5 linked regions of the Homo sapiens genome follow. The protein of the gene in region 1 purifies or fractionates together with the protein of each later gene. This does not show direct contact. Each region holds a gene or a part of one and is shown in the gene's direction. Other genes may lie near its edges. The genes, in order: LRRC3B, ANKRD13A, DNPEP, ODR4 and PKLR.

Region 1 (6,200 bases):
GCAGCTCCCAGGTAGATTCTTCTTGTGGCTCCAGATGCTCTGGCGAATGCAGGAGGGGGAGGCTCTTTTCTCCTTTGCACCCCAGCAATCTGGAGTGCAAGACCGTTTGCGGGAGGGGGCTTAGTCGGCTGTTTCGAAGAGGCAGCCTCCCCTCCCTTTTATCCATCAAGCCCCCTATTTCCTGGTGGGGGCACAGTGACTGCCAAGGCCAGTAAGCACCTCACTTAACCCTTCTCTCCCTGAGGAGGTGCATGCTCCTCTCCCAGAGGTGCCTTTGGCTGAGAGTGGATCCCTGGTTCCTAGTAGCCCTATAGGGAAACATTTGGAGGTTGGGTGGGTTTGGAACCCTGTACAACCTTTAGGTCCTCCCTGTTCAGACCTTCCACGTGCAGGCTTTTCTTACTTTCTCCGCGGGTGCCCTACAGAGGACTCCTGCTGCCTTGTACCAGTTGGGAAAAAGCAAAATTCAGAGCAGTTCCTTTTTCTGGGTCCCTCGCCTTGGCCACATCGGAGGAAACGTCGACTCGCCAGGGCTCCCGGGAGAAATCCCGAGGTCAGTCCCTCCCATTCTGGGGCACCCCTGGAGCAGCTAGCTCCCTGCCTAGCGGTGGCAAACTCCAGAGCCCCAAGGAGCAGAACGGGGATTCCCTGTGCGCAGGCTCCTGGTGCAGCTCCTGAGCACAAAGGCCACACCCTCACAGACCAGGCCTGGTGAGAGAGCCGGGCTTCTTCAGAAGTACCTGGATACCTGAGGTAGGATCCTAGACTTGAAACTCGCACTCCACGAGATTTAGCTCTGACCCCCCCAAGGCTCATTTCTTTCTGGGTGCTTATCTATCGCCTGAATTTGCGCTCTGGCCACTTCTTTTTGCATGTAGAAACAAATTAGACCATGTTCCTTGGCAACTTGAGGAAAGACTCCAAATCCACACCAAGGTGGATTTATTTCAGGTTGCTGAACTGTTCTGGGGAGACAAATAGTAATGTAACAATCAGTGCTAGCTAGCAGTTGTGGAGTTCTTACTATGTGCCAGACACTATCTTTGATGTTGTGTGTGTTTGTGTTAGATTTAACCCTCACAACAACCCTGAAAAATGGGTAGAGTTATTTATCTCATGTTATAGATGGAGAAACCCAGTATTGAAGAATTCAAGTTATTTGCTTATTGACATTCAGCCAGGAAATGGTGGGGCTGAGTGGTCTGGTGATCAGAGAACACTGAGTGTGTCCCATACTCCCAGCCCTATTTGGTACTAAAAACCATTTGTCTGGAAGGAAGCATGAGTGAGGCCCCTCACCCTTTACTCCAAACTGCAGCGGCGTACTATAAGTGCCAGTCCTGGCCTGTGAGCCCCTGTGACTAGAGTATTAGGGAGACTGATGTTACATATCGCCTGTCTCAAAGTTTGTTGGGGTACACCTTGGTATAGTGGAATACTAGTAGAGGAAATCGATTTGGAGAACTGGCTACTGGTAATGGACTTCTCTTCTGAACCTTTTGTAGACATTCCCTTTTTAAATAGGAAGGTAAATGGAAGGAGGGATCCAAATATGAACAGAGATTTGCTCTGTAGTCAAAAACTAGAGGCAGTTTTATGTAGCAGTTGTATTCTGCAAATGAAAGCCTCTCTCTGAATTGAGTCACATAATTAGTTAGAGCTAAGAGGGATCTCAGATATTATCCCACCCAATCCAGACTCAGGGAGGAGATTCAATGCTGAGCTCAAGGCCATTTGGTGCATTTGTAGCATAACTAATGCTGGAACCACTGCCTTTTGACCCTTGCTCAAATATGGTACCATTATACATAAATAAATTATGCTCACTCCTGCTGTTTTTTTAACATCTTAAAATTAATTAGGAAAAGGCTTTTTATTTTTAAAAAGACTGTTTTGCTTATTTTCGTATAAATGCTTCTCAATCAGCATAACCAGAAAAACTCTATATCATATATAATGAATAAGCTACCACAAATGTGACTCTTTTTGCAAAAATAAAACATTGCAGAATATTTGTAAGCCTTCAAATCAACAAAAATTAACTATGCAAACCTCTGGATGATTCTAAATAAGATTAAATGATTTCTAATGATTTTAGCAGTCTTCTGTTAGATTGAGTTGCTTCATCCTTCTGCACTCCCAGGTATTTGTGAAAATAACAGGGAATTTTTCCTATCACAGGAAACATTCTTTTGAATACAGTGGCATAAATTCTTGGATTTCTCCTGGATTCTTGACTTTTCATTAAAGTTTATGCTGATGTAAAGCTGAGGCAAAACAATATATTTCTGTACTTGGGGCTCAGAAAGAGGAAAAATAGTTCTTTGTCACTTCCGATAATATTTGCCACTTCCTCGCCTACCTGGCCCCTTCAACAAAGGGGACTTTCTGCAGTCACTTGAGGATTTCATATACCTTTAAGCGTTTTTGTGGGACAAAGTTCTAGTTTCCAAGAACACCTCATGTCTTTTCTCTGTAGCTGTAGTACCAGGATGTCCTCCCCTTGGAGACAAACCAACAAAAAGTCAGCCAGGGTAAACAGGGAGGAGGGATAGAAGAATCCTGTTTTTCAGAATCAGATCAGCGGGGCAAGAGTCATAGACAGATAGTGGAAACCTGGTGCCTTTTAGGTCACCTGGAATAGGATTTCCATCTCTAATGCTGTGGCACACTAGGACCTAGGCCATCCTATAGTGAGGACCTAGGCCATCCTATAGTGGAGGAAGAAAAGAAGAGAGTGAGGCAACAATATTGTCAGAGGAGGGATGAGGTGGAGGAAGATGGAGGTGAGGCTTGGCTGCTGAGGCACCCAAGTGTGACCAAAATGCCCACAGAGAGCCAACGTGCACTAAGAGCTGCTCCTCCTCTTCCTTTTTTTCCTACCCTCGACCTCAGTCTGCGTTTTGTGTCAGGTTGACTGTTCTGAATCCCCAAGACCCCAGTTATCTCAAGGAGAAGCATTCATTTTCCGGAGAATTCATTAGAAGTCAATTTTGTTTTTATGCAAGTAGGAAAAACTTGCACAGCTGCCCCACTCTTCAGGAAGAGCCATTCAAAACCAGATCATCCAGAAGGGTGACCTTCTGGAGGTGGGGATACCGGCTTAGTTGAGTTGCAGCAGTGTTAAAGAAAAGAGACATAACACTGAAGTTAAGTGTGACAATATCCAAAAGAAATGGTCTATGTCCTAGGAACCACAGGAAGGGGAATCCTTTGGAACCTGGGCAGACATTCTGGTTTCCAATTCCCAGTTTATTCAGGGGAGCTCTATCCTCATCTTACTTATGTGGTCCAATCCCCTCTACTTATTTTACTGTGGCTGCTAGGTGGTGCAATATCAAAAGTCCCACATGACACGTCTGCTGGGGAGATTCTTTGGGGTGTACCTTTATCTTAAATCATATAAATATGAGTTCATTGACATTTAGAATAACAATTATTATTAAGCAATATGCTCTAAGACAAAGGATATGGAAAAATAAAAACTTTTATTCAGAACACAATGAATAGATATGTTTATACAATACATAGTATGAGTTAAAAGTCTTGGGTAAGATATTTGAAAAAAAATAATCAAGATTCGGAATATCTGATCTTGATTAATTTTAATAGCAAGAGAAGCTAAATAATAAGGTTCTGTAGAAAGAGTTTGAAGAAGATACTGGAAAAAAAAAAAAAAAAGCTCAGAGTAGGACCTGAGAAGCTTTACCCTTATTGATTTTATTTAAAAAAATATAAAATATCTTAATCTATATTTAGATTTGAATAATCCATAAGATTAATAAATTTTGTATTCATTTTATTATCTGAAGATTGTGACTTTGATGAACTTTATTTGATAAATGGTTTGGAGCCATGATGGAAGCTCTGAGATGTTAGTATATATCTACATATACTTTATAAAAACTTAGTGAATTAATACATCTCAACATGATAATGACATATGAAATGGCCATTTCATATGAGAATGAAATCTGGAATCTTCTCAAAAGCTGATAGGCTTGAACATACTATTTCTCCACCACAGGTGGTAAGTTAATAGTAAGGGCCATTTAGTTCTTTCAAAATAGATAAATGAGTAAATACTAAAAAAAAAAAAAAAAAATCCTCCACAAATAAAAACAGATTTTATTCTTTAGGAGGATAAATGAACAGATTAGGAAAGGTTATGAAATTTACAGTTTCATTTGATCCTAAGCTCTCTAAGCTACCTTTTATGTTAATACTTGTCCAGTGCAAATGTCACTACCTTTTCAGACAGTTTAAAAAATGCTTTAGGTGCCTTTTATTAGAAATAAAATGGAAACAAATATTATTTAAAAATGTGAAGCTATTCTCAACCATGGAGTAATATTTGACAAAGTGGTAAGTATGTTTTCAAATACAGATTAGTTTCCTTTTATTCTCTTTTCCTCCTCTACCCCTCCCCCTCCCTCCCTGCGTCCTTCCTTCCTTCCCTCCCTCACTCCCTCCCACTCTTCCTCCCTTCCTTCCTTTCTTCCTTTCTTCCCTTCTTCCTTCCAATTTTAGGTCATTGATAGAAGAAGTATTCAGTAACTTACTGGGAGAGACTGCTATAATATTTCAGGACAAATACGTCCTCTGGCGAGGACAGTGCTGAAGGCACAGTGCATAGTTCTCTAAAGCTAAAGCACAAAGGTCATGAGGTCTCATGGCTTTCCCCTGAGTCTTCTAACCTGAGCTCTGATTTGGAGAAATAATCATTGTATAGGCCTGCTACAGAGGGCTCCCCCTGTTAGCGGTGACTAAGCAGTATGCTTTCCCTATGCTGCACTGGGAATTTATACACTGAGAAGAGTCCTGGTCCAGGCTGCTGATCTTCTCTAGATGTCTGGCCATCAGGGATTATTAAGTGGAATACTTTTCACCCTTTCCACAATTATATTTAAGCTTAGGGTTTCAAAGTTTTTATTTTCCTGCTGCTATGTGTTGTGTGGTTTTTTATTGGGGTGGCTAGTTTGTTATTTTAACTGTGGCTCAGAAACAGTGTCTGTTAGTAAACTGAAAATGATTCCCAAAGGGAAGATGTACTGTGGACTGTTGATACCCAATGTTTCTGCTACAAAACCTGTGAAAGGGGTATGGTGTGTGGCCAGCCAAGTCAGGAGGGCCAAGCAATTGGCAGCAGACAACAGCAGAGAAAGGTGGGAAAGGTGGGGGCAGGAGAGAAAGAGGTGTAAGAGAAGCATGGCAAAAAAAAAAAAAAAAAAAATCTATCCAAAGGAAGAGAACCCAATACTTAGCACAGTAAGACTAAGAGATATCTGATAGTAAACCTAAACCAAAGGATAAGGGGAAAAAAAAATCCCATAAGAATAAGAGAAGACAAAAAAAAGAGAATGGGAGTAATAAAGACTGAAAGAAGAGGGCTTATAAGGAAGAGGAATGTACTAAATAATACCTCATAGCATAGATCAGTTCAAAGGCAGCCTAGCTCCCCAGCCAGAGGGCAAGGTCTCTTTCTCACATATCAGAGTGCCACATTAATGTGGCTTTATCAATCTCCAGGCCAAGGTCTTCTACTCTGATTTACTCCATAGTGCCCTTTGACAGTCTGACAAAGCCTGCGGGCCCTGGAATGGTGTTTAAATGCATAAAATATAATACATAAGATTATAGCACAAACCAATTTTATTGAAATATCTGTTTATCGACTTATAAAAGAAACCACTGTTACTAATATATGTGCCTCTTACATAATAATGCCTCTATAACAAGATCTTGTAGTGGGACTAGTGGCTACTATTGTTTCGAAGTAGGAATGGGCATAAATGCTACTATGAGATAACTGTGGCAGCTGTATTGTGATATGAAAATATTTATATTGGTGACATAATCACTAGTATGGCTACTATTGAGGTTTATGGCCTGTGTTCAAATGGGAATGAGATGGTACATTGCCATTTAAGCTTCACAAACAAAGTTGCGACTTTTTTTTCCATGCAAGTTCATGGATGCCTTGAATTCTATTGGTGGATGCCTTGAATTCTATTGGTAGATGCCTTGGAGGTCTCTAACCCCAAGAACTGCAGACAATGGTAACCATAAAATTTATCATTTCCCACTGGGACACTTTGGAGAATGAAAGGGCTCTCAGTTGTTTTTCCAAGACAGTAGGTATAAATCAGGACAGGCCCGGGCAAATGGTAATACAGCTGCTTTAGCTCTCTGGGATCTTC
Region 2 (6,200 bases), on another chromosome or scaffold:
TTTTTGGTTGTTGAAAGTGGGGAGTGGGTGCTTCTGGTAGTGGGTAGAGGCCGGTTATGCTGCTCAACATCCTACAATGGCCAAGACAGCCCCCCGCAACTAAGACTTCTCCGGCCCCCAAAGCCGACAGCGTCTTGGTTGAGAAACTCTGCTTTTCTTTCTTTCCTTCTTTTTTTTTTTTTTTTTTTGAGACTGAGTTTCGCTCTTGTTGCCCGGGCTGGAGTGCAATGGTGCGATCTCGGCTCACTGCAACCTCCGCCTCCTGGGTTCAAGCGATTCTTCTGCCTCAGCCCCCCAAGTAACTGAGATTACAGGGATGCACCACCACGCCCGGCTAATTTTGTATTTTTAGTAGAGATGGGGTTTCTCCATGTTGGTCAGGCTGGTCTCAAACTCCCGACCTCAGGTGATCCGCCCGCCTCAGCCTCCCAAAGTGCTGGGATTACAGGTGTGAGCCACCACGCCTGGCTGAGAAACTCTGCTTTTAAAGTCTCCCAACAATTCTGGGAGGTATTGGTGCCCTCAAGTTTCAAGCTAACAAACTTAGCAGTTAGGATGAGGATTTGTGATTACCCCTGAAATCTAGTATGGTTGTTCTTGTTGACTTCATACATTTTATCCAGTGTCTTACAGACCTGGTTTTTGAATGGCTCAAAATTGGTGCTATAATTGTCAAGAAATTGTAGAGGAAGAGGAGGATTGTTTGTCTTATGGTTGACAAAAATTGAGAAGGTTAGCATTACTCCATTTGGTGAATGGGTGCTGCAAGCTGTGTGCTTGCAACCTGCCATATTTAAGGTGGTTGAGCCCTCACCGAAGTCCAAAATTACCCTCTTTTCTTTTCTGTTTCTTTTTTTTTTTTTTTCTTTTTGAGATGGAGTCTCGCTCTGTCATTCAGACTTGAGTGCAGTGGCGCGATCTCAGGTCACTGCAACCTTCGCCTCCCGGGTTCCAGCGATTCTCCTGCCTCAGCCTCCTCAGTAGCTGGGATTACAGGCTAATTTTTGTATTTTTAGTGGAGGTGGTATTTTGTCATGTTGGCCATGCTGGTTTCAACCCCTGGCCTCAAGCAATCCGCCCACCTCTACCTCCCAAAGTGCTGGGATTACAGGCATGAGCCACTGTTGCCGGCCTTTTTTCATTTAAAAAGAATTCCAGATACGATAAACTTTTGTGAGAGTCATCGTTCTTAATTAGATGACAGACCAACTATTTAAGAGTTAAGGAGATATGACACATGCCCTCAGACTAAATGATTCACCATTAGGCATTTTAGTATACTGATCATTTAATTCCTTTTCTATTACTAGACATGGTACAGAGGTAAAAACTGTAAGACTCAGCTAGGACACTTTAAAAATGACCAGTTTTGGTTTTTAGGAATCTACTTCTTTTGGTGCCCAGGCTGGTCTTGAACTCTTGTACTCAAGTGATCTGCCCGCCTCAGCCTCCCAAAGTGCTGGGATTACAGGCATGAGCCACTGTGCCTTGCCCAAATCCTGTATTCTTAACCCCTACTATACTTCTTTCAGTAAAAATGACTTCATTTCAAGATTATGGAGAATAAATAAGGAAGATAATGGACCTGAAAGTGCAGGCATATGGTAATTGGAAACAATATTTACTAGTAGCTGCTGCTATTATAATCATCATTTGTAAACCTGGGGATTGAGCTTTTTTGCTCTATATTCCAGTTTTTCTGCAAGGAAGATGTATTGATTGCATAATTAAAAACAAAAAATTCTTAAGTCCGGGCACGGTGGCTCATGCCTGGAATCTCAGCACTTTGGGAGGCTGAGGCAGGCAGATCGCCTGAGGTCAGGAGTTGGAGACCAGCCTGACCAACACGGTGAAACCCCGTCTCTACTAAAAATACAAAAATAGCTGGATGTGGTGGCACGTGCTTGTAATCCCAGCTACTCAGGAGGTTGAGGCAGGAGAATCGCTTGAATCCAGGAGGCTGAGGTTGCAGTGAGCCAAGATCGTGCCACTGCACTCCAGGCTGGGAGACAGAGCGAGGCTCCGACTCAAAAAACAAAAAAAACCCAAAAAATTCTTATCACCCCAGCAATAAAGTGGCTGTTTCCCTTAATGTTTTGTTTGCTGGTGAGTTTCTGCTGTCAGTTTCCTCATTCCGTCTATCACCTGATTGAGACTTGGAGCATGTATACTGATAGCTGTAAGAATTTTTTTCCAGGTTTTTTGTTCCTGTTCCAGGAACAGCAACACAAGAAAGAATCAAGTTTATCCAGATGAAGAGGATAAGCACGTGTTTCTGTGTGTGTGAGCCAGCCCCAATCCCACTGTCTCACTAATAGCAGGCAGTTGTGTAACTATGCCAACTACCAGATTGTTTCAGGCCTTCATTTGATCAGCAGAGGCATTTAATAAAGTGCCTCTTAACCCATCAGCTCATTAATATTCAGTGGGGCCTTGAAGTTGGTTGCTGAAGTTGAAACTGTTTGTGTTCTGCTTATGTCGTTGGCCGCTTAGCTAAAGAAGTCTGTTAAACTTCTTTGGCCTTCTTACTGATGGTGAGACATGAACACTTAAGGGGACAGATGCAAAGGTGAGTCAGTGTACCTTAGACAGGGTTGGAAAACCTGGGTTGTGTGAGGTGGAGGGTGGCAAATGAGGCCTGACTCTAGAGCCAGGCTCCCTGTTTAGGAAGCCAGCAGGTGAAAAGTATAGCACCTAGGTAAGAGGAGGACATTCCTGGGGTTCTCACTCCAGCCTGGGGCAGGCCAGGTGAGGCCCCGGGCACAGATTCAAATCGCTGAGCCATGGGCTAGGCATCCAAGATGAAGAGCCTAGAGCCTGCTCTCCTCATGTGCCCCCTTGGTCATCGGGGGTTCAAGCTCACCTTAGGAAACTGGCCTCAAGATTCCTGTTTCCACTGACTCAGCGTGGGGGCCACACAGGACCAGGATGGTCTGAGAGTGAAGAGGAGTGAGGGTGGTTGTCTGTGTTGAGAGAGAGGAGGACTAGCCAGCAGCCTCTTGCTGGAGTCCCCCTAAAGGTGACAGTGAGTTTATGAAGCACTTCCTGCATGCCAGGTACCAAGGCACAGGGGAACTGATAATTCACCTGAGGCTAGTGGGCAAGCTGGAAGGGGTGTCCAGTTGTCTGGTTCTGCAGCCTGGCCTCAGAGCTCGGCAGGAGGATGGCAAGATAGTAAAGAGGGCTTTTGATTGAGGAGGCTGAGGTGGGGTCAGTGCTTGAGGACAGGAGTTCAAGACCAGCCTGGCCAATATAGTAAGACTCCGTCTCCTTAAAAAAAAATTTTTTTTGGCTGGGCACGGTGGCTCACGCCTGTACTCCCAGCTCTTTGGGAGGCCAAGGCAGGTGGATCATGAGGTCAGGAGTTCAAGACTAGCCTGGCCAACATAGTGAAACCCCATCTTTGCTAAAAATATGAAAAATTAGCTGGGCATGGTGGCGGGTGCTTGTAATCCCAGCTACTTGGGAGGCTGAGGTGGGAGAATCGCTTGAACCTGGGAGGCGGAGGTTGCAGTGAGCCAAAATCGCACCATTGCACTCTAGGCCCGGCAACAGTATGAGACTCCATCTCAAAAAAAAAATAAATTTTTTTTAAGGCTTTTGAGCAAGAAAAGTGGATGAGCTGAAATGAGCAAATAGGAAGGAAACTCCTAGTTAAAGGAGGATGGGTATTTTTATTTGGGTATAGCTCATGGCTAAAGAAACTTAAAAGGAAAACCTAAATGATCAGTTTCGAAAGTGAATTCCAGCCGGGCGTGGTGGCTCAGGCCTGTAATCCCAGCACTTTGGGAGGCCGAGGTGGGCGGATCACCTGAGGTCGGGAGTTCGAGACCAACCTGACCAACACAGAGAAACCCCGTCTCTACTAAAAATACAAAATTAGCCAGGCGTGGTGGTGCATGCCTGTAATCCCAGCTACCCGGGAGGCTGAGGCAGGAGAATTGCTTGAACCTGGGAGGCAGAGGTTGCAGTGAGCCAAGATCTCGGTGAGCTAAGATTGCACCATTGCACTCCAGCCTGGGCAACAAGAGGGAGACTCTGTCTCAAAAGAAAAAGTGAATTCCAGCTAAATTCTGAAACTCCTTGTTCTCTGAACTCATATTATTAGTTGAAGATTCTAAGCCCCACTAATAACTGTAATGCAATTTGAGCAAATCCCTTTTAGGGAGAAAGTGACAGCTATATGAAACTACATAGTGTGGGCGTATGATAATAACAGGTAACTCTTCTCAGCACTTACTGTGGTGTCAAGCACCGTGCTAAGTTAAGGACTTTCCCCTTGTAAGAACTGTAAGGTAGGTTTTTTTTATTGTTCAGTTTTACAAGCGAGCAAACTGAAGCTCAGGAGGAATTAAGCAACTTGTCAAACAGTACATGAGAGATTCGTTTTATGTATTATGTATAAACATATACAGATTGATTTTTTCAAAAGATTTTTATTGCGATATAGTTCACTTATATAATCTACATTTAAAGGTTATTCAATGGTTTTTAGTATATCTGCTGAGTTATGCAACTATCACTACTGTCAAATTTCAGAAATTTTTTTCTTTTTCTTTCTTTTTTGTTTTTTTGTTGTTTTTGAGACAGGGTCTCACTCTCTTGCCTAGGCTGGCACCATCACAGCTCACTGCACCCTTGACCTTCTCGGCTTAAGCAATCCTCCCACCTCAGCCTCCCAAATAGCTAGGACTGCAAGCAAGCACTACCACGCTTGGCTAATTTTTAAAGATTTTTTTGTAGAGAAAATGTGTCCCTATGTTGCCCAGACTGGGCTCAAGCAGTCCTCCTGCCTTGGCCTGCCAAAGTGCTAAGATTACAGGTGTTAGCCACTGCACCCACCCTGTAATATTTTCCTCACCCGAAAAAGAAACCCCATACCTGTAGTAGTCACTCCTCATTTCTCCCCAACCCCTCCAGCCCAGGCAACCTGCTAACCTACTTCCTGTCTCTAGATTTGCCTATTCTGGACATTTCATATAAATAGAATCATATGTGGCCTTTTGTTTCTTCTTTTACTTAGCATAATGTTTTGGAGGTTCATCTACGTTGTGGCATGTTTCAGGTGCTTAATTCCTTTTTATCACTGAATATATTCCATTGCATGGATGTACTATGTTTTGTTTGTTAGACGAAAATGTTTCTCCGTTTGTCAGTTGATGGACATTTGGGTTGTCGCCACTTTTTGGCTATTATGAGTAACGCTGCTGTGTGTATTTGTGTATATGTTTTTGTGGGTTTCCTTTTTTTTGAGACAGCTTGCTTTGTTGCCCAGGCTGGAGTGCAGTGGCATGATCTCAGCTCTCTGCAACCTCTGCCTCCTGGGTTTAAGCGATTCTCCTGTCTCAGCCTCCCTAGTAGCTGGGATTACAGGTGTGCACCACCACGCCTGGCTAATTTTTGTATTTTTAGTAGAGATGGGGTTTCACCATGTTGGCCAGGCTGGTCTTGAACTCCTGACCTCAAGTGATCAGCCCACCTTGGCCTCCCAAAGTTCTGGGATTACAGGCATGAGCCACTGCACCCAGCCCCATGTATAAGTTTTTGTATGGGTATATGTTTTCATTTATCTTGGGTATATACCTTGGAGAGGAATTGCTGGGTCATGTAGTTACTCTATGTTTTAACTTTTTGCGGAACTGCCAGCAATTTTTCGAAGTGGCTGCACTATTTTACATTTCCACCAGCAGTGTATGAGATTCCAGTTTCTTCACATCCTTGTCAACACTTGGTATTATCTGTTGTTTTGTTTGTACGCATCCTAGTGGGTGTGAAGTGGCATCTCATTGTGGTTTTGATTCGCATTTCTCTTATGATTAATGATGTTGAGCATCTTTTCATGTGCTTATTGGCAATTTGTGTATCTTCCTTGGAGAAATGTCATCTCAAATCCTTTGCCCATTTAAAAATTGAGTTATTTGACTTGTTGAGTTGTAAAGGTTCTTTGCATATTCTGGATAGTAGGCCCTTATCAGTATGTGATTTGCAAATATTTTCTCCCATTCCATGGGTTGTCTTTTTTTTTTTGAGATGGAGTTTCGCTCTTGTTGCCTAGGCTGGAGTGCAATGGTGTGATCTCGGCTTACCACAACCTCCGCCTCCCAGGTTCAAGCAATTTTCCTGCCTCAGCCTCCCGAGTAGCTGGGATTACAGGCATGCGCCACCATGCCTGGCTAATTTTGTATTTTTAGTAGAGATGG
Region 3 (5,885 bases), on another chromosome or scaffold:
CTACAAACCTGTACGGCTTCTTACTGTGCTGAAAACTGTAGGTAACTGTAACAAAATGGTCAGTGTATCTAAACATAGAAAAGGTACAGAAGGCCAGGCGTGTTGGCTCACACCTGTAATCCCAGCATTTTGGGAGGCCAAGACAGGCAGATCACTTGAGGTCAGGAGTTCAAAACCAGCCTGGCCAACATGGTGAAACCCCATCCTACCAAAAAATACAAAAATTAGGCAGGCGGAGTGGTGCATGCCTGTAGTCCCAGCTACTTGGGAGGCCTTCCCTACTTGGGAAGGATCTCTTGAGCCCGGGAGGTGGACGTTGCAGTGAGCCGAGATCGTGCCATTGCACTCCAGCCTGGGCGACAGAGTGAGACCCTGTCTCCAAAAAAACAAAACCAAAAAAAAAAAAAAAAGAAAAGAAAAAGAAAAGTTACAGGAAGCATATGGTATAAAAGATTTAAAATGGTCCACCTGTATAGGGCACTTAGGAATGGAGCTTACGGCACTCGAAGTTGCCCTGGGTGAGTGGTGAGTTAATGTGAAGGCCTAGGACATTACTGTACACTATTGCAGACTTTATCAATGCCGGACACTTAGGCTACACTACATTTATTTTGAAAATTGTATTTCTTCAACAATAAATTAGTTTACTGTAACTTTTTAACTTTATTTATTTATTTATTTATTTATTTATTTTTGAGATGGAGTCTCACTCTGTCACCCAGGCTGGAGTGCAGTGGCACGATCTCGGCTCACTGCAACCTCTGCCTCCCAGGTTCAAGCGATTCTGCCTCAGCCTCCTGAATAGCTGGGATTACAGGCACGCACCACCATGCCTGGCTAATTTTTGTATTTTTAGTAGAGACGGGGTTTCACCATGTTGGTCAGGCTGGTCTCGAACTCCTGACCTTGTGATCCGCCCGCCTCGGCCTCCCAAAGTGTTGGGATTACAGGTGTGAGCCACTGCACCCGGCCAACTTTTTTACTTTATAACCTTCCATTTTTAAAATTTTTGACTCCTTTGTAACAACAGTTGGCTTAAAACACAAACACATAGTACAGCTATTCAAAAGTATTTTCTTTTTTGTATCCTTATTCTGTAAGCTTTTTTCTATTTTTAAAATTTTTCGTTATTTTTAAAATTTTTAAACTTTTTGGTTAAAAACCAAGACACAAACATACACATTAGCCTAGGCCTATACAGGGTCAGGATTATCAATGTCCCTGTCTTCCACCTCCACATCTTGTCTCACTGGAAGGTCTTCAGGGAGAGTGACATGCAGGGAGCTGCTATCTACCATGATAACAATGTGCTCCTAAAGGACCTGCCTGAGGCTGTTTTACAGTTAACTTTTTTTTTTTTTTCTAATAAGTAGGAGTACATTCTAAAATAACAGTAGGCTGGGCATCGTGGCTCATGCCTGTAATCCCAGCACTTTGGGAGGCCGAGGCGGGTGGATCACTTGAGGTCAGGAGTTCAAAACCAGCTGGCCAACATGGTGAAACCCCGTCTCTACTGAAAATACAAAAATTATCTGGGCATGGTGGTGTGCGCCTGTAATCCCAGCTACTCAGGAGGCTGAGACAGGAGAATCGCTTGAACCCAAGAGGCAGAGGTTGCAGGGAGCCAAGATGGTGCCATTGCACTCCAGCCTGGGCGACAAGAGTGAAACTCCATCTCAAAATAAATAAATAACAATAAAAAGCATAATATAGTAAACACATAAACCATAACATAGTCATTTATTATTCTTAGGTATTGCATACTGTACATAATTGCACGTGTTATGCTTTTATACGACTGGCAGTAGATTTATTTACGCCGGCATCGCCACAAACAAGTGAGTCATGCATTATGCCACAACATCGCAACAGCTGTGATGTCACTAGGCGACAGGAATTTTTCAGCTCCATTATAATCTTACGGGACCACTGTCATATGTAGTCTATCTTTGACTGAAATGTCACCATGTAGTGCATGACTGTCTATTTCTATATTTATCTGTCTACCTCTCTATATCAGGGACTCAGGCATGGGCGGTCCAGTGACAATCATAGCAGGTGTAGAACCGTGGTATCCTGACTCCCAGCCCAGGGCTCTTTCTGCTGCACAGTGTTCACTCTTCCTTTCGGAAAGCTGAATTGTTCTGCCCCCAGGAAGCCTTCTCTGAGGACGTGATATTTGAGCTGAGACCTAACCACTGAGAAATAGGCAGCTATGGGAGGGTCCCAGCCAGAGGGCACAAGTAGAAAGGCCCCAAGGGGGGCCAGGAATGAGCTCGTCTTTTAGGAGGAGAGAAAGGCAGGATGGTAGAGCCAGGATGAGAGCAGGAGAGGGTTAGGGGAGAGGCCCAGCTCAGTGATGATACAGGAATACCTAGGCCATGGAAGGACATTTCAATTTTATTCTAAGGCAGTGAGAAGACATTGGGAGATTTTTCTTTAATAATTTACAGCAGAAGTAGGACACATGTATTTTAGAAAATTAGAAAATACAGATAGAGATGAGAAAATAAAACACTAATCTGCAGAAATTTGGTATAGTCTTCCAGATTTTTTTCTATGCATAAACTTCATATACACTTTTTTAAAATGATATTATATTGGATATATTTTTGTTGCCTCTTTTCACTCAGTCATCTTCACCTTTCTATTTGAGTTTGGTTTTTTTTTTTAATGTTTTTTTAAAATTAGAAACAGGGTCTTGCTTTGTCTCCCAGGCTGGAGTGCAGTGGCATGATCATAGCTCACTGCACCCTCAAACTCCTGAGCTCAGAAGATCTTCCTGCCTCAGTCTCCCAAGTAGCTGGGACTACAGATGCATGCCACCATGCTGGCTAATTTTCTATTTTTAGTAAAAATGGGGTTCTTGCTATGTTGCCCAGGCTGGTCTTGAACTCCTGGCTTCAAGCAGTCCTCCCACCTTGGCCTCCCAAAGTGCTAGGATTACAGGCATGAGCCACCATTCCCAACCCCATTTCAGGAAATTGTTGTTTCAGTAAACTTGTACCTCATCTAATGCACAGATCACTTTCCGTTTTCCCCAGTTATCCTCAAAATATTTTTTTTACAGGTATTTGGCCCACCCTAGTATCCAACTCAGGACAATGCGTTATATTTGGCTGATATGTTGCTTAAATGTCTTCCAGTGTAGCACAGTTCCCCCCACCCCTTTTTAAATAGCATTGGCTTATTCAAGAAACTTCTGGATATGTCTCCTTGCTGCCCCATGGTGTCATTTAGCTTGTCTGTAAGCCCCGTATTTCCTATCAACTGGAATTTCTAAAGACTTGATGGATTCAAGTTAAACTTTTTTTTTTTTTTTTTTTTTTTTTTTTGACAGAGTGAGAGTTTCACTCTGTCGCCCAGGCTGGAGTCTAATGGCGTGATCTCGGCTCATTGCAACCTCCGCCTCCCTGGTTCAAGTGATCCTTCTGTCTCAGCCTCCAAAGTAGCTGGGATTACAAGTGTGCACCACGATGCCCAGCTAATTTTTGTATTTTTAGTAGAGACAGGGTTTCACCATATTGGCCAGACTGGTCTTGAACTCCTGACCTCAAGTGGTCCGCCCACCTCAGCCTCCCAAAGTGCTGGGATTACAGGTGTGAGCCACCGTGCCTAGCCTCAAGTTAAACATTTTGGGCTAGAAGACATGGCTGGTGTATTCATATGGCATCACACACATGATATCTGGGTGGGCCACCCTTAGCCTTGCAAAGATTGACCACTGGACCAGGAATGGCCTCTTATCCTTTCATTATATAGTGCTTTTCCCCTATTGACCTGACAGTGACCCATACAAGTGATGAGTTCCCTATTAACCAGATACCTAATGGTTTTAACACTTACAATAATCCTTGTCTAAATCAGTAATTTCATTAGAATTTACCGAAAAATGCCCGCTTCCCCTGAATTCTTTCAGTCTTCCATTCTTCTGTGAAGTGGAACTTCTTCCCTCCAATCAACTAGGGTTCTTTGGTTATCATGGAATATCATTCCTATTGATTGGAAAGCAGGATAAATGCTAATTCTTTCTGTTATCCACTTTTCAAGGTGAAATGTCGTCTCAAATAGTGACAAAGAAAGATTTTTCCTTTTCCTTTTTTTTTCTTTTTCTTTTTTTTTTTTTAGACAGGGTCTCGCTCTGTTGCCCAGGCTGGAGTGTAGTGTCGCAATCTCAGCTCACTGCAACCTCCTCCCCACAGGTGCAAGAGAGTCTCATACCTCAGCCACCTGAGTAGCTGGGATTACAGGCATGCACCACCATGCCCGGCTGTTTCTTGTATTTTTAATAGATACAGGGTTTCACCATGTTGGCCAGGCTGGTCTTGAACTCCTGGAATCATGTGATCTGCACACCTTGGCCTCCCAAAGTGCTGGGATTACAGGCGTGAGCCAGCACACCTGGCCTGCTTTTCCCTTTCTGACTATCTTAGAATCATGGAATTTCATTTATTCAGTGTCCTCTATAATTATTATATTTGATTTGTGAATTGCCATGGCTTTGACCAGTGGGAGCCCCTTCAGCATAACTCCTGTGCCCTTTGACTCTTGGAAGTCTCCTTGCTTTTTGGCACAACAAAAATTGTAGACATGTCTTGTTCATTTCGCCCCCCAGACTTGGTAGTTTTTGGCAAGCAGTGGTATTAGAGACCATAGCCTGGCACTGCAAGTGTTCATTGTTCTTGGGGGAGGGGACGGTGCTTTGGGTCCATTTCCATGGACATAGCAAGAAAAAAGTACATATTTTAAAAATCATGAAGCCAGGTGTGGTAGCTCAGGCCTGTAATCCCAGCACTTTGAGAGGTAGTGGATCACTTGAAGTCAGAAGTTCGAGAACAGCCTGGCCAATATGGCAAAATCTCGTCTCTACTGAAAATACAATAATTAGCTGAACGTGGTGGTGCGTGCCTGTAATCCCAGCTACTTGGGAGGCTGAGACAGGAGAATCGCTTGAACCCAGGAGGCAGAGGTTGCAGCGAGCTGAGATTGCGCCACTGCACTCCAGCCTGGGCATCGCAGGGAGACTCCATCTCAAAATAAATAAATAAAATAAAATAAAAATTTTTAAATAAAAATCATGAGTTAATACTGTAATTCTTATTCATAAAATTATTCTTATTTAGTTAAATAGTTACTACCTATTTGATTTTGTAATTCTGTTTTCTCTTACACTGAAAACCTTGATATCTAGCATCATATTTTCATTTTCTTATTTTTTTACCATAATATAAAGAAAATCATTTCAAAATGTCAGTAGCAATATTTTTAAAGACACTGATACCACTGAGTGATTTTTTTCTGTGAGTGTGGATATTAAGCAAGAGGGTGACAAGGATGGATACTTTTAAAAATCCCCCTTCCTGCTGTGTGGAGAATGGATTGGAACTAGGGTGGTGGCAATGCAGATAGAATGGGACCAATTCAGAATATATTGTCCTTTGGGGTCTGCCATTTAGCATTGGCTTTGATTTTATGCTCCGAATGGACCATCTCCCAGGCCCCTTCCCACCCTGCAATTCTAAGATGGCGTCCTCCTTGGCTCTGATAAGCACACACTGCATGTTGCTCATGGGTCTCCTGCTCTCCCTAGGATCTCATGGTCCGGAATGACACCCCCTGTGGAACCACCATTGGACCTATCTTGGCTTCTCGGCTGGGGCTGCGGGTGCTGGATTTAGGCAGCCCCCAACTGGCCATGCACTCTATCCGGGAGATGGCCTGCACCACAGGAGTCCTCCAGACCCTCACCCTCTTCAAGGTAACACCCACCCCAGACCCTCTCTGGCAGCTGGGCTGCTTCCCCTCTAGTGCCTGGATTGGTTGCTGGGACAACATCGCCATCACAAAGTGACTGGCCTGAGTAATGGGGGCTGGTTGTCATGCTG
Region 4 (6,200 bases), on another chromosome or scaffold:
ATTATGTGCTGATTAAGTATTATTATGTGCTTTGTCATTAAACTAAATATAACAGTATTCATTAATTAACATGTAAAATGTAATTAATGTAAGAAGCTATACTGTTTGGACTTTTAGCTTTCTCTTAGTACTTAGGTTTTTTTGTCTTCCTTTTTCCAGTTCTTTTTTGTATTTCTATACCATTCTTTTATTTTTATCTTATTTTTCTTCATTTTTCCCATTGAAGATGTCAAATAGAGCTTTTTTTTTTTATTTTTTAGACTTATTTGATGCTTTTTTCTCACTTTTTTTTTTAAGGTAGTGGGCATTAAATTTTATTTAACTGATCATGTACTTAATAACCTCCTGAGTCTGTGACATAAATGTTATTCTGGGATAAAGATCAGAAAATAACTATTATTAAATATAATAAGGTATCAAGAATGGGGGTATACTTTTTTTTAATTTGTGAAACTAGATTTAAATGCTGCAGTAATGAGATTTAGGGATTTTAATATTTCAATTTATTAGGTGGAACAAAGTAGATTATAGGAAGTTTAATTGAGATGGCATTGTATCTGAAAGATTTCCATGTTGTGTTTCTGTTAAGAATGGACTTACACGCTGGGCCAAGGAAATAGAAAATGGTGTTTATTTGATTAATGGACAAGTTAAAGATGAAGATTGTGACCTATTAGAAGGACAGGTAAGTTAAGAGAAAATCATCTTATTAAATTGTTAGTGCTTAAGGAAAAATAAAACATGACTTATTTTTAGTCCTTGCCTACAAGAAAACTGATTTCATCTACCTCTCATTTCTGATTTCTGATTTAAAGTAAAAGGCAAATGTTTTTCTTAGAAAAACAACCTCATTAAAAAGTAGGCAGAGGATATGAACAGACACTTTTCAAAAGAAGACATACATGCAGCCAAGAATCGTATGAAAAAAAACTCAGCATTACTATCGGTAGAGAAACACAAATGAAAACCACAATGAGATACCATCTCACACCAGTCAGAATCGCTGTTATTAAAAAGTCAAAAAATAACAGATGCTGGCAAGGCTGCAGAGAAAAAGGAATGCTTATAAACCGTTGGTGGGAGTATAAATAAGTTCAACCATTGTGGAAGGCAGTGTGTTGATTCCTCAAAGACCTAAAAACAGAGATACCATTTGACCCAGCAATCCTATTACTGGCTATACCCTCAAAGGAATATAAATTGTTTTATTGTAAAGACACATGCATGCATTATGTTCATTGCAGCACTATTCACAATAGCAAAGACATGGAATCAACCTAAATGCCCATCAATGACAGACTAGATAATGAAAATGTGGTACATATACACCATGGAATACTGTGCAGCCATTAAAACAGAACGAGATCATGTCCTTTGCAGGAACATGGATGGAGCTGGAGGCCTTTATCCTTAGAAAACGAATGCAGGGGCCAGGCATGGTGGCTCATGTCTGTAATCCCAGCACTTTGGGGGGCCGAGGTGGGTGGGTCACTTGAGGTCAGGAGTTTGAGACCAGCCTGGTCAACATGGTGAAACCCTGTGTCTACTAAAAATACAAAAGTTAGCTGGGCATTGGTGGCAGGTGCCTGTAATTGCAGCTACTTGGGAGGCAGGGGCCAGGCGTGGTGGCTCATGCCTGTAATCCCAGCACTTTGAGGGGCCAAGGTGGGCAGATCACTTGAGGTCAGGAGTTCAAGACCAGCCTGGTCAGCATGGTGAAACCCTGTCTCTACTAAAAATAACAAAAATTAGCCGGGTGTGGTGGCAGGTGCCTGTAAGCACAAGCTACTCGGGGTGCTGAGGCAGAAGAATGGCTTGAACCTGGGAGGTGGAGGTTGCATTGAGCCGAGATCGTGCCACTGCACTCCAGCCTTTGGCTACAGAGTAAGACTCCATTTCAAAATAAAAGAAAAGGAAAAGAAGAAAACTAACAGAGGAACAGAAAACCAAATACCGTATGTTCTGACTTATAAGTGGGAGCCAAATGATGAAAACACATGGACACATAGAGGGGAAAAACACACACTAAAAGGAGGGAGAAGGAGAGGATCAGGAAAAATAAATAATGGGTACTAGGTTTAATACCTGGGTGATGAAATAATCCGTATATCAAACCCCCATGACTGAAGTTTATCTGTGTAACAAATCTGCACATGTACTCATGAACTTAAAAGTTAAAAAATAAGTCCAGGAAAAAAAAGAAAATGATGTAATTGGAATCCTGAAACTTTACAGGAGTGTCATCTGAATTTCATCTGATTTCCAAATTGTAAACTGCTGACCTGCAACCAAAGGCCACATGTTGTTCTGCCCTGATGACAGTTCAAAAGCTATGGCCATTTTATAAAAGAGGTTTATAGAGGCTTCTAAAATAGCTTTGACCTGAAGGAAGCGGAACTTTTGTGATCTCTCACTTTTTAAAGCAGGGATCAGCAAACTTTATGTGAAGAGAAAAATACTACATATTTAGATTTCACAGGCTGTATTTTTATCTCTACTGTGTAGCATGAAAGCAGCTACAGGAGATACATAAGTGAATGATCCTGGTTGCATACCGGTAAAACTTTATTTACAAAGATGAGTGGCAATGTGGGTATTTGCCCACAGGCAGTGGTTTGCCAGTTGTTGCTTTAGAGGAATGAAAGTATGGAATTAATTGTTTTAAAGAGTGTACATTGATACAGAATACATAAAGTAATATCTATATAAAAAGCTAAATTAAAATAATTAAAAGACTTGTTTTTTTCTAAGTTACTTAGTATATGTACAATAGTTTATAAGTTGTCTTTTATGTTTTACAGGCTTCACAGTTTGGCTTTTTAACTTTTGTGTTTTTTCAGAAAAAATCTTCTAGAGGAAATACTCAAGCAACTAGTCATTCTTTTGATGTCAGAGTGCTAACGCAGTTGGTAAATATTTTAAAATAACACTTAAAATATTTATTAGCATAACCATAATGAAACTGTTTCTGTTTTTATTTTTCTCATTAGAGAATAAAAGGATTTTAGAGCTGTAAGAGACTGTATGAAATGGCTGGTTATAGGAAGGTTATTCCCAAGAAACATCATTTTAATAAAACCTGTTTGGGTTTTTTGCCTCAAGGATATTAAAATTTTAACATCAATAGATAGCAGTTTAAAAAAATATGTACACATACATGCATACATATACATGTATGTATGTGTACATATTTTGGGTTGTAGCTTTTATAGTTAAAGTTGCAATTTTAACAACTTAAAAGATGTGTACACAGAGGTGCAAAGAGTTGTCATATGCTTATTTTGAAGTAGATTAATTAGATTTATACCCCCTGATTTGATAAAAATCACAAAGTATTAATTAGCAAGTTTTATATTTATGTATGGTTGCTTTAATTTACACGTCTTTTCGAAAATTTAAAAGTTGGATATCTTAAAGAATAAAAAGTTAAAGCCACTAATTATTCCTAAAAATACATACCTTTGATTTTAATCCTACTTGAAATTATCCTAAAGAACAGACAAGGGTATAAAATAGCAAACGCGTGTTTGTAGGAAACTTTATTTCAATATTATACTGGATTTTGAAACAGAAATACTCTCAGGACTTGTGTTTTTTTGAACTGAATAGAATAGAATTAAAAGCAATTTGGCATTTGAGGATGTTTTAGTTTCTTCTTTTTCTGTGTGTAGCAATAGCGCATTAGTAAATTGTCTTTGGGCCTATGCCACTCAATGTGAGTTCTCAATTTCATTTTTCAATACCTTAGAGGTATTTTAGTCTCTGATTTTCTACTTTGTCTTGATTTTAGAAGTGTCCTTTGTTTTGAGGCTGGCTATTCCACTACTTATGTGCTTTTCACTAGTTAGGCTTACTTCATGGTTTATTAAACAATTTGGTTAAGATTATTTTATTAGTAGTATAAAATTGTAGTTGGGAGATGTATAGAGTGTGGGAATATAGAGAGATGAGTGGAAGATAATCTCATGAGATAATTTATTGTAGTAGTAATATTATTGTTATTTTTGAGACGGAGTCTCGCTCTGTCTCCCAGGCTGGAGTGCAGTGGTGCGATCTCGGCTCACTGCAAGCTCTGCCTCCTGGGTTCACGCCATTCTCCTGCCTCAGCCTCCTGAGTAGCTGGGACTACAGGCGCCTGCCACCACACCTGGCTAATTTTTTGTATTTTTAGTAGAGACGGGTTTCACTGTGTTAGCCAGGGTGGTCTCAATCTCCTGACCATATGATCCGCCTGCCTCGGCCTCCCAAAGTGCTGGGATTACAGGCGTGAGCCACCGCGCCTGGCCAGGTGTAGTAATAATATTATATAGTATAATATATTTTTGGTAGTCACTCCACCGATCACCTAACTGGAAATTTTGAAGTGACTAATATACAGTAAGTAGTCAGTAAGTATTTATTGCCACTTTTCTCCCAGTTAAGTCTTATTGATTCCTTATTTGTAGTATTAAGCTTTTCTTTTATTTTCCATACAGTCCTGCTGTCATTAGCCTTACAACAGTATTATTTTACCTAAACTAGCACAAGTAGCCCTTAACTGGTCTCTCTTCATCTATACATTCTTGTCCAAAGTGATTGTTTCTCTAAATCCCTTCTACCTTTGTTAGTATATCTCTTGAAATACTTTCCATTTATCTACTCTATCCTGTTTATACACTCAGATGATCATTTCTGAATCATAGTTTATGTTCAGTTATTAATTTTTTTCAAGAAGTATTTATTGAGTTTGTACAACAGCCGGACACTGATTATGGTACTCCTTGCTCAAAATTTCTTAAGTGTTCTGTACTGACTAGTTAGAGAAGTCCAACTCAGGGTTCTTCATAGCCTCAGCATACCTTTTTGTTCTTATTTTCTACCTCTTATTTTCTAGATGTATGCTTGCCATACCTTTAAAGCTCTGTATTTCCTGAACTATGTATCATGTCTTTGCTCTTTTCTCTGTCACCCAAACTGTCAAAATCCTATCTGTACATTAAGATCTAGCCCAAATGCCACTACTTGTGTAAGATTTCATTTGGTTCCCATAGAAATGGGGATCTTCTCTTTTTCAAATGCCATGTCAGCATCATAGAAGTTCCCTCACCTATAGGCTGTTTGGCAGCCAGGTTATTCCTAAGTCCAAATAACCAAGAGGAGTTTACATTTGTAGACCCCAACTGGTCTACATTTCCACCTAAAAGGAATGAGTCAGACCTTACATTCTTTAAAACTTTTCCTGGCTGAGCATGGTAGCTCATGCCTGTAATCCCAGCACTTTGGGAGGCCTAGGCAGGGTGATCGCTTGAGCCTAGGAGTTCAAGATGAGTCTGAGCAACAAGTGAAACCCTGTCTCTACAAAAAAATACAAAAATTAGCTGGGGGTGATGGTGTGTGCCTGTAGTCCCAGCTACTTGGGAGGCGAAGGTGGGAGGATCGATTGAGCCTAGGAGCTTGAGGCTGCAGTGAGCTCTGATAGCATCACTGTACTCTAGGCTGGATGACAGAACAAGACCCTGCCTCAAACAAAACAAAATAAAACTAACCAACCAACCAAAAAAATACCTCTTTTCTTTAATATGTGTGTGTATAGTCTTTAATAGTCTAGTCTGTTTTGGATAACAATGCCATAATTATAGATAGATAGATAGATAGATAGATAGATAGATAGATATATGTATATACACACATACACATATATTTACATATACTAATATATAAATGTGTTATATGTTAAAAATATATAAATTATATGTTAAATATGTAAAATAGGACATTCTTTTTAGAGTAGTTTTGTCTACAATAAAAAGTTATGGAGTAGATAGGGGAAGCCTGTTACTCCTCCTCCAACCCCACCTTATTGATGTATCAATGAACTCTACATGTGTCATATGGAAGCTTATTCCAGACATTGTATCAGCATCGTCACACTGCTGCTTGGTTTGATGATAGCCATTTTTGAATGGACCCAGGACCTTTGGAGCTGTGTGGTCTGTGGCAAATTTTTTGTCAACAAGTCCTTGACCATCTTAAAGTTTAAATTGTTTAACAACACCTAGAAGATTTACATTGCCTTAGACATTGCTTGAATTACACTAGACATCAATAATGCTCTTTCAATAGCTATGCATGTCAGTATTCTCCTCTTCATTATTTTTCCGCATTTATTCCTGATTGCATAAGCACATAGGCACAAAGCACTTTTCACAAGTTGTATGATT
Region 5 (6,988 bases), on another chromosome or scaffold:
AAAAAAATAAATAAATAAAATAAAATACACCCTCTCTCTTCTCCCACTGGCTTCTGTGTTCCAGCACCCTGATCCACTACTTAGTAGCACTTGCAAGGTTTGTAGTTACATATTTATTTCTCTGATACTTGTTGATAGTCTGTCTCCCCACTATACTGTAAATCTCACAGAGGGCAAAGGCCCTGTCTGTTTTGCTCACTACTGTGTCCTTAGGGCCTGATACAGCGTAGGTGCTCGATAAAGATTGGACAGTGGGGAATGGGCAAATGGTAACTAATGAATGCTATGATGATGATGATGCTATCAAAGCCCTTCCAGAGAATCCCACCAGTTAGTATCAGCTGAACCCACAGCTAGTGTCACACCAAAAGTGGCATCAGGGCAGCACTCACAAAGGATGCCCCAAACCATCCCAAGATGGGGCTGGTTGGGATTCCAGTGAATGAAGCACTAAATGCCAGGGCAATCAGGCCAAAGCATACATTAGGGGAACTTACCTACAGAACAGCTACTGCACATCCTTGCTGTGGACAATGGGACAAAGGGTGTTCTACCCAGGTATGTTCTCAAGGAGGGGTTCGGGGTATGGTGTTTATAGGAGTGTTTAAGAAATTTGAAGCCAGTACTATGGCTCACACTTGTAATCCTGGCATTTTGGGAGACCAAGGCAGGAGGACCACTTGAGCATAGGTGTTCAAGACCAACCTGGGCAACAGAGTGACACCAGTCTCTACAAAAATAAAAAGTCAGCACCTGTGGAAAGAAAGGAAAAAAATATTTTTAATAAATAAAAATTTAAAAAGTAGCCAGGCATGGTGGTGCACACCTGTAGTACTGGCTACTTGGGAGGCTGAGGTGGGAGGATCGTTGGAGCCCAGGAAGTCAAGGCTACAGTGAGCCATGATCACACGAGTGCACTCCAGCCAGGGTGACAGAGTGAGACCCTTTAAAAAAAAAAGAAAGAAAACAAGGCTGGGCATGATGGCTCACACCTGTAATCCCACCAGTTTGAGAGGCCGAGGCTGGTGGATACTTGAGGCCAGGAGTTGGAGACCAGCCTGGACAACATGGTGAAACCCCATCTTTACTAAAAATACAAAAATTAGGCCAGGCACAGTGGCTCACACCTGTAATCCCAGCACTTTGGGAAGCTGTGGCGGGCAGATCACCTGAGGTCAGGAGTTCGAGACCAGCCTGACCAACATGGTGAAACCCCGTCTCTACTAAAAATACAAAAATTAGCCAGGCGTGGTGGTGCATGCCTGTAATCCCAGCTACTCAGGAGGCTGAGACAGGATAATCGCTTGAACCCAGGAGGCAGAAGTTGCAGTGAGCCAAGATCACGCCACTGCACTCCAACCTGGGCAACAGAGTCAGACTCAGTCTCAAAAAAAAAAAAAAAAAGAAAAGAAAAGAAAAAAGAAAAACAAAATTAGCTGGGTGTGGTGGTGCACGTCTGTAATCCCAGCTACTCGGTAGGCTGAGGCAGGAGGATCGCAGAGGTTGCAATGAACTGAGATTGCGCCACTGCACTCCAGCCTGGGCGACAGAGTGAGACTCTGTGAAAAAAAAAAGAAAAAAAAGAAAAAAGAAAAAGAAAAAAGGAAGGAAGGGAGGGAGGAAAGAAAATTTCCCTGGGGGTAGGAGTCTATAAGTTTAGCAAAATAGTCGATCTTTCAGTGTTTCCAGCAACAACCTAATCAAGTTTATCAGTGTCTGAGAATGTTCAAGGTACCATCTTGGGTTCAAACATGTAGGCGAAAACATGCAGCTGGCCAGGTTACAGAGTGGTGAAGGCACTCTGCATTTCTTGGTTGAGACAGAGAAAAAAAGTGGTCAGAACTGGGTAACCCTCCCCCCACCATATTATCACAGTGATCCCTTTTGTCTTTCTTCAGGCTCCAGCCCCACCCTACAGCCCCTGCTCCCTGGATTCACTAGAGCTAACTTCAGTAAAGTACAAAGAAAATGGGGCCATATGACTGGCCAAAAAAAAAATATCTATTCACGTGGATGACCAGATAGTATGAATGGATTGAAAATTTATCAGGAAAAAAGGATGAGAGGAAATGCCAGGAGATGAGGGCAGAGAGCAGGCCGTTCTGGGGGAGGGATTCTGTGGGGACAGGGTGGCCTACTGGGTGTGCCCCTTTTCTCTTCTCTGTCTCCCTTAGATAAGACCAGCAGTTTTGTCATCCTCTCCCTCTCATTCCATGGTCCCGCAGCCCCAGGCCCACACTGAAAGCATGTCGATCCAGGAGAACATATCATCCCTGCAGCTTCGGTCATGGGTCTCTAAGTCCCAAAGAGACTTAGCAAAGTCCATCCTGATTGGGGCTCCAGGAGGTAAGAAGGGGAGACAGAAGCCATGGAACATAGGAGGAAAATGAGGGTGAAAACTAGGAGCCAGGGTGGAGGGCATAAATGATCCACATCAGCCACTGGCTAGGTGGGTTTTGGAGAGGAACGTACGTTCTTCAGAGCCTCCCGTGTGTTAAATTATGGACCCTGGCCTGGGTCTTTTCCAGGCCCTATAGGCAGGCCAGAGCCACAGCATGTAAGCCACGGGGCACTCCCGTGGTTCCTGGACTCTGGCCCCTGGCATACAGGGCTTCCAATGGAACAGGAGACAGTGGTGACACTTTAACCAGTCTGCAGAACTGATCCCCAGCCCAGCTGGGCCTCATGCCTCTGACAACCCAACAGTGTGGAGCAGACCCACAGAGAGGGAGACCCAGAGAGGTGTGCAGTGGCATGGAAGGTGCGGCTGGAATCGGGGGCTCCTCTGAACTGGGATGGGTCAAGCTACAGGGACCTCTGTGTCTGTAGCAGCTTTGAGAAGCCTGGGGAGACTCAGAGGATGGGGTGGGGAAGCCAGCCAGTAGCCAGGGGTTGGAAGGGAGAAAACAGAGACCTTTGGAGCAGGAACTGGGTGATTCTGGGTCTGCATAGGGTGAGGCTGCTGGGGACTAGACATCAAGGGGTGGTGGGGTTGAGGGTCATCAGTAGCTGCAGGTCGGGGGGTCCTGGGTTGTGCGGGGTCAGTATAACTGAGTGGTCAAGAACTTGGGCTAGAGTTAGTCAGACCTAGATTTGAATCCTAGCTGATCCATACTTAGAAGCTGTATAATATTGGACCATTTATTTCCTGTTTCTCAGCCTCTGTTTCTTTATCCATAAAATTGGATAATTATAGAACATTTAACAGTACCTGCTTTATAGGATCCTTGTGACATAATAAAATAATATATGCATGATGCCCAGCTCATAAGAAGGGAAGGAACAGAGGGTATGCTGAGAGACGAAGGCATGGGGAGGAAGGGCAGGTGACATGCAGTCCCTGAGCCCCCTTCTACCACAGGGCCAGCGGGGTATCTGCGGCGGGCCAGTGTGGCCCAACTGACCCAGGAGCTGGGCACTGCCTTCTTCCAGCAGCAGCAGCTGCCAGCTGCTATGGCAGACACCTTCCTGGAACACCTCTGCCTACTGGACATTGACTCCGAGCCCGTGGCTGCTCGCAGTACCAGCATCATTGCCACCATCGGTAAGCACTCCCATCCCCCTGCAGCCACACAGGGCCTATTGGTATTTCTTGAGGTGCTTCTTCATCTTTTGTCTCCTTTGAGACTTCTCCATGTTTGACACAGTCATTCATTTAACAAAAATTTGTTGAGCATATAGTAGACAAGATTTTGGGCCCTGGGAGTAGATCAGTGAAAAAAACAGACAAAAATCCCTACCCTTGGGGAGCTGACAGTCTAGCTGAGTATGACAATAAATAGTAAGCACAATAAATTATTTAAAATAAGTAAATTATTTATTCCGTTAGAAAGTGAGGCCGGGCATGGTGGCTCATGCCTGTAATCGCAGCATGTTGGGAGGCCCAGGTGGGCAGATCACTTGAGGTCAGGAGTTCGAGACTAGCCTGACCAACATGGAGAAACCCCGTCTCTACTAAAAATACAAAATTAGCCGGGCATGGTGGTGCGTGCCTGCAATCCCAGCTACTCAGGAGGCTGAGGCAGGAGAATCGCTTGAACCCAGGAGGCGGAGACTGTGGTGAGCCGAGATCACACCATTGCATTCCAGCCTGGGCAACAGGAGAAAAACTCCATCTCACAAAAAAAAAAAAAAAAAAAAAAAAAAAAAAGTGGGCTGGGCTCAGTGGCTCATGCCTGTAATCCCAGCACTTTAGGAGGCCAAGGTTGGCAGATCGCTTGAGCCCAGGAGTTTGAGACCAGTCTGGGTAAATGGCAAAACCCATCTCTACAAAAAATACAAAACTTAGTTGAGTGTGGTGGTGCATGCCTGTAGTCCCAGCTACTCAGGAGGCTGAGGTGGGAGGATCACTTAAGCCCAGGAGGTCACGGCTGCAGTGAGTCATGATCGAGCCACTGTACTCCAGCCTAGGTGACAGACGAGACCCTAGAGAGAAAGAGAGAAAGAAAGAAAGAAGGAAAGAAAGAAAGAAAGAGAGAGAGAAAGAAGGAAGGAAGGAAGGAGGGAGGGAGGGAGGGAAGGAAGGAAGGAAAGAAAGCAAGCAGGCAAGAAAGAAAGAAAGAAAAGAAAGAAGGAAGGAAGGAAGGAAGGAAAGAAAGAAAGAAAGAGAAAGAAAGAAAGAAAGAAAGAAAGAAAGAAAGAAAGAAAGAAAGAAAGAAAGAAAGAAAGAAAGAAAGAAAGAAAGAAAGGAGTGAAAGTTGGCCGGGCATGGTGGCTCTTGCCTATAATCCCAGCACTTTGGGAGGCTGAGGCAGGTGGATCACCTGAGGTCAGGGGTCCGAGACCAGCCTGGCTAATGTGGTGAAACTCTGTTTCTACTAAAAATACAAAAAATTAGCCAGGCATGGTGGCATGTGCCTATAATCCCAGCTACTCGGGAGGCTGAGGCAGGGGAATCGCTTGAACCCGGGAGACAGAGATTGCAGTGAGCCAAGATCACGCCATTGCACTCCAGTTTGGGCAACAAGAGCGAAACTCTGTTTGTTTGTTTGTTTGTTTTTAAAAAAAGAAAAAAAAGCTGGGCGCGGTGGCTCACGCCTGTAATCCCAGCACTTTGGGAGGCCGAGGCGGGCGGATCACCTGAGGTCAGGAGTTCGAGACCAGCCTCAACATGGAGAAACCCCGTCTCTACTAAAAATACAAAAAATTATCCGGGCATGGTGGTGCATGCCTGTAATCCCAGCTACTCAGGAGGCTAAGGCAGGAGAATTGCTTGAACCTGGGAGGCGGAGGTTGCGGTGAGCCAAGATCGTGCCATTGCACCCCAGCCTGGGCAACAAGAGCGAAACTCCGTCTCAAAAAAAAAAAAGGCCAGGCGTGGTGTTTCATGCCTGTAATCCCAGCACTTTGGGAGGCCGAGGCAGACTGATCACGAGGTCAAGAGATCGATACCATCCTGGCCAACATGGTGAAACCCCGTCTCTAATAAAAATACAAAAATTAGCTGGGCGTGGTGGCACATGCCTGTAGTCCCAGCTACTCGGAAGGCTGAGGCAGGAGAATCACTTGAACTGGAAGGCAGGGAGCAGAGATCGCACCTCTGTCCTCCAGCCTGGTGACAGAGCGAGATTCCATCTAAAAAAAAAAGAAAAGAAAAGAAAGAAAAAGTGAAAGTTTTAAGTGCTATGGGGAAAGAAATCAAGTGTGATAAGGGCATCAGGAGTACGAGGGTGAAGACAGGTTGCAGCCCTAAATAGGGAGGTCAGTTATTATTGAGTAAATGAGACCAAAGGGAAGACTTGAAGGAGATGAGAGAATTAGCCATGCAGAGACCTGGGGGAAGAGAATTCCAGGAAGAAGGATCAGTCAGTGTCAAGGCCTAAGTCAAGAAGGTTAGAAGAGCTAGAAACCATCAAGGGGGAAGAGCGGCAGACATGAAGAGACTGTGTACGGACAGGAAGATCAGGTGCAGCTTTGTAGGCCATTTTTAGAATTTGAGTTGCGTTTTCCTCCGAGTGAAATGAGAAACTGCTGCAGGGTTTTGAGCAGGGGAATGACAAGCTCTTATTTATGTTTTAATAGAGCCTCCCCTCCCCTGCTGCTGCACTGAAAATAGATGGGGGGTGGGGGGAAGGGTGCCCCTGCAGTATTTCTGGCTCAGACCAGTTGGCGGCAGTGAGGTGGTGAGAAGTGGTCAGATTCTGAATGTATTTTGCAGGTAGAGCTGACAGGATTTGCTAATTGATCGGATATGGGGTATGGAGTGTGGGCGAGAAAGAAAGGAGTCAAAGGTGACAGGTGACTCTGAGGTTTTTGCCATAAGGAACTGGAACGATGCATTAGCCACTGAGCAGGAAAGACTGTGGTGGAAGGGGTTGGGGGGAGAGCAGAAGTTTGCTTGGGACATGTTGAGTCTGAGATGCTTATTAGCCATCCAAATGTGATAGAGGGGGCAGTCAGGTACACAACTCTGGGTTTGGGAGAAAGGTCTGGATTGGAGAGACATTTGGGAGTTGGCTACATATAGATGGTATCTCAAGCCATGAGACTAGTTGAGACCACCAAAGGAGTGTAGGTGAAATGACGGAGAAGAGAACAGGGTATCTAACGTTAAGGGGAGGAACAAGGAAAGGAGACTGGGAAAGAGCAGCTAGTGAGGTAGGAGTCAACCAAGAGAGGGTGCAGCCCTGGAGGTCAGGTGAAGACAGTGTGTCAAAGAAGGATGTATGTTCAGGCTGCTGATGGGCCAATAGAGGAGGACTGAGCATTGAGCATTACATGGAGCAAAAACACAGAGGTTCTTGGTGACCTTGACAAGAACAGATGCAGTGGAGAGATGGAGGCCAACGCCTGAGTGGGGTGGGTTCAAGGGAGAATGGGGGAGGGGAACTAGAGGTAGCAAGTACAGATAACTCTTGCGATGAGTTTTGCTGCAAGTGAGAGCAAATACTGGGACTGAGGGGAAACCAGGAGATTAAGAGAATTTTTTTTTAATGATGAAAGAAATAACAGTAGGTTTACCTGCGGATGGGGATGATCCAGTAAAAAA

The links.
Region 2: the proteins of LRRC3B (region 1) and ANKRD13A purify together in Homo sapiens (affinity purification with mass spectrometry; one large-scale study listed by BioGRID and IntAct). This does not show direct contact.
Region 3: the proteins of LRRC3B (region 1) and DNPEP purify together in Homo sapiens (affinity purification with mass spectrometry; one large-scale study listed by BioGRID and IntAct). This does not show direct contact.
Region 4: the proteins of LRRC3B (region 1) and ODR4 purify together in Homo sapiens (affinity purification with mass spectrometry; one large-scale study listed by BioGRID and IntAct). This does not show direct contact.
Region 5: the proteins of LRRC3B (region 1) and PKLR purify together in Homo sapiens (affinity purification with mass spectrometry; one large-scale study listed by BioGRID and IntAct). This does not show direct contact.

The regions. Positions count from the first base shown.
Region 1 is NC_000003.12:26,624,759-26,630,958, forward strand, and holds part of LRRC3B (leucine-rich repeat-containing protein 3B precursor), read left to right. Parts: exon of another isoform or gene 1-753; intron 754-6,200.
Region 2 is NC_000012.12:110,000,587-110,006,786, forward strand, and holds part of ANKRD13A (ankyrin repeat domain-containing protein 13A), read left to right. Parts: intron 1-6,200. UniProt on the Homo sapiens protein: Ubiquitin-binding protein that specifically recognizes and binds 'Lys-63'-linked ubiquitin. Does not bind 'Lys-48'-linked ubiquitin.
Region 3 is NC_000002.12:219,374,728-219,380,612, reverse strand, and holds part of DNPEP (aspartyl aminopeptidase), read left to right. Parts: intron 1-5,590; coding exon 5,591-5,758; intron 5,759-5,885.
Region 4 is NC_000001.11:186,391,107-186,397,306, forward strand, and holds part of ODR4 (protein odr-4 homolog), read left to right. Parts: intron 1-589; coding exon 590-685; intron 686-2,840; coding exon 2,841-2,909; intron 2,910-6,200. UniProt on the Homo sapiens protein: May play a role in the trafficking of a subset of G-protein coupled receptors.
Region 5 is NC_000001.11:155,296,654-155,303,641, reverse strand, and holds the start of PKLR (pyruvate kinase PKLR), read left to right. Parts: upstream 1-2,203; 5' UTR 2,204-2,246; coding exon 2,247-2,346; intron 2,347-2,689; exon of another isoform or gene 2,690-2,754; coding exon of another isoform or gene 2,755-2,761; intron 2,762-3,361; coding exon 3,362-3,544; intron 3,545-6,988. UniProt on the Homo sapiens protein: Pyruvate kinase that catalyzes the conversion of phosphoenolpyruvate to pyruvate with the synthesis of ATP, and which plays a key role in glycolysis.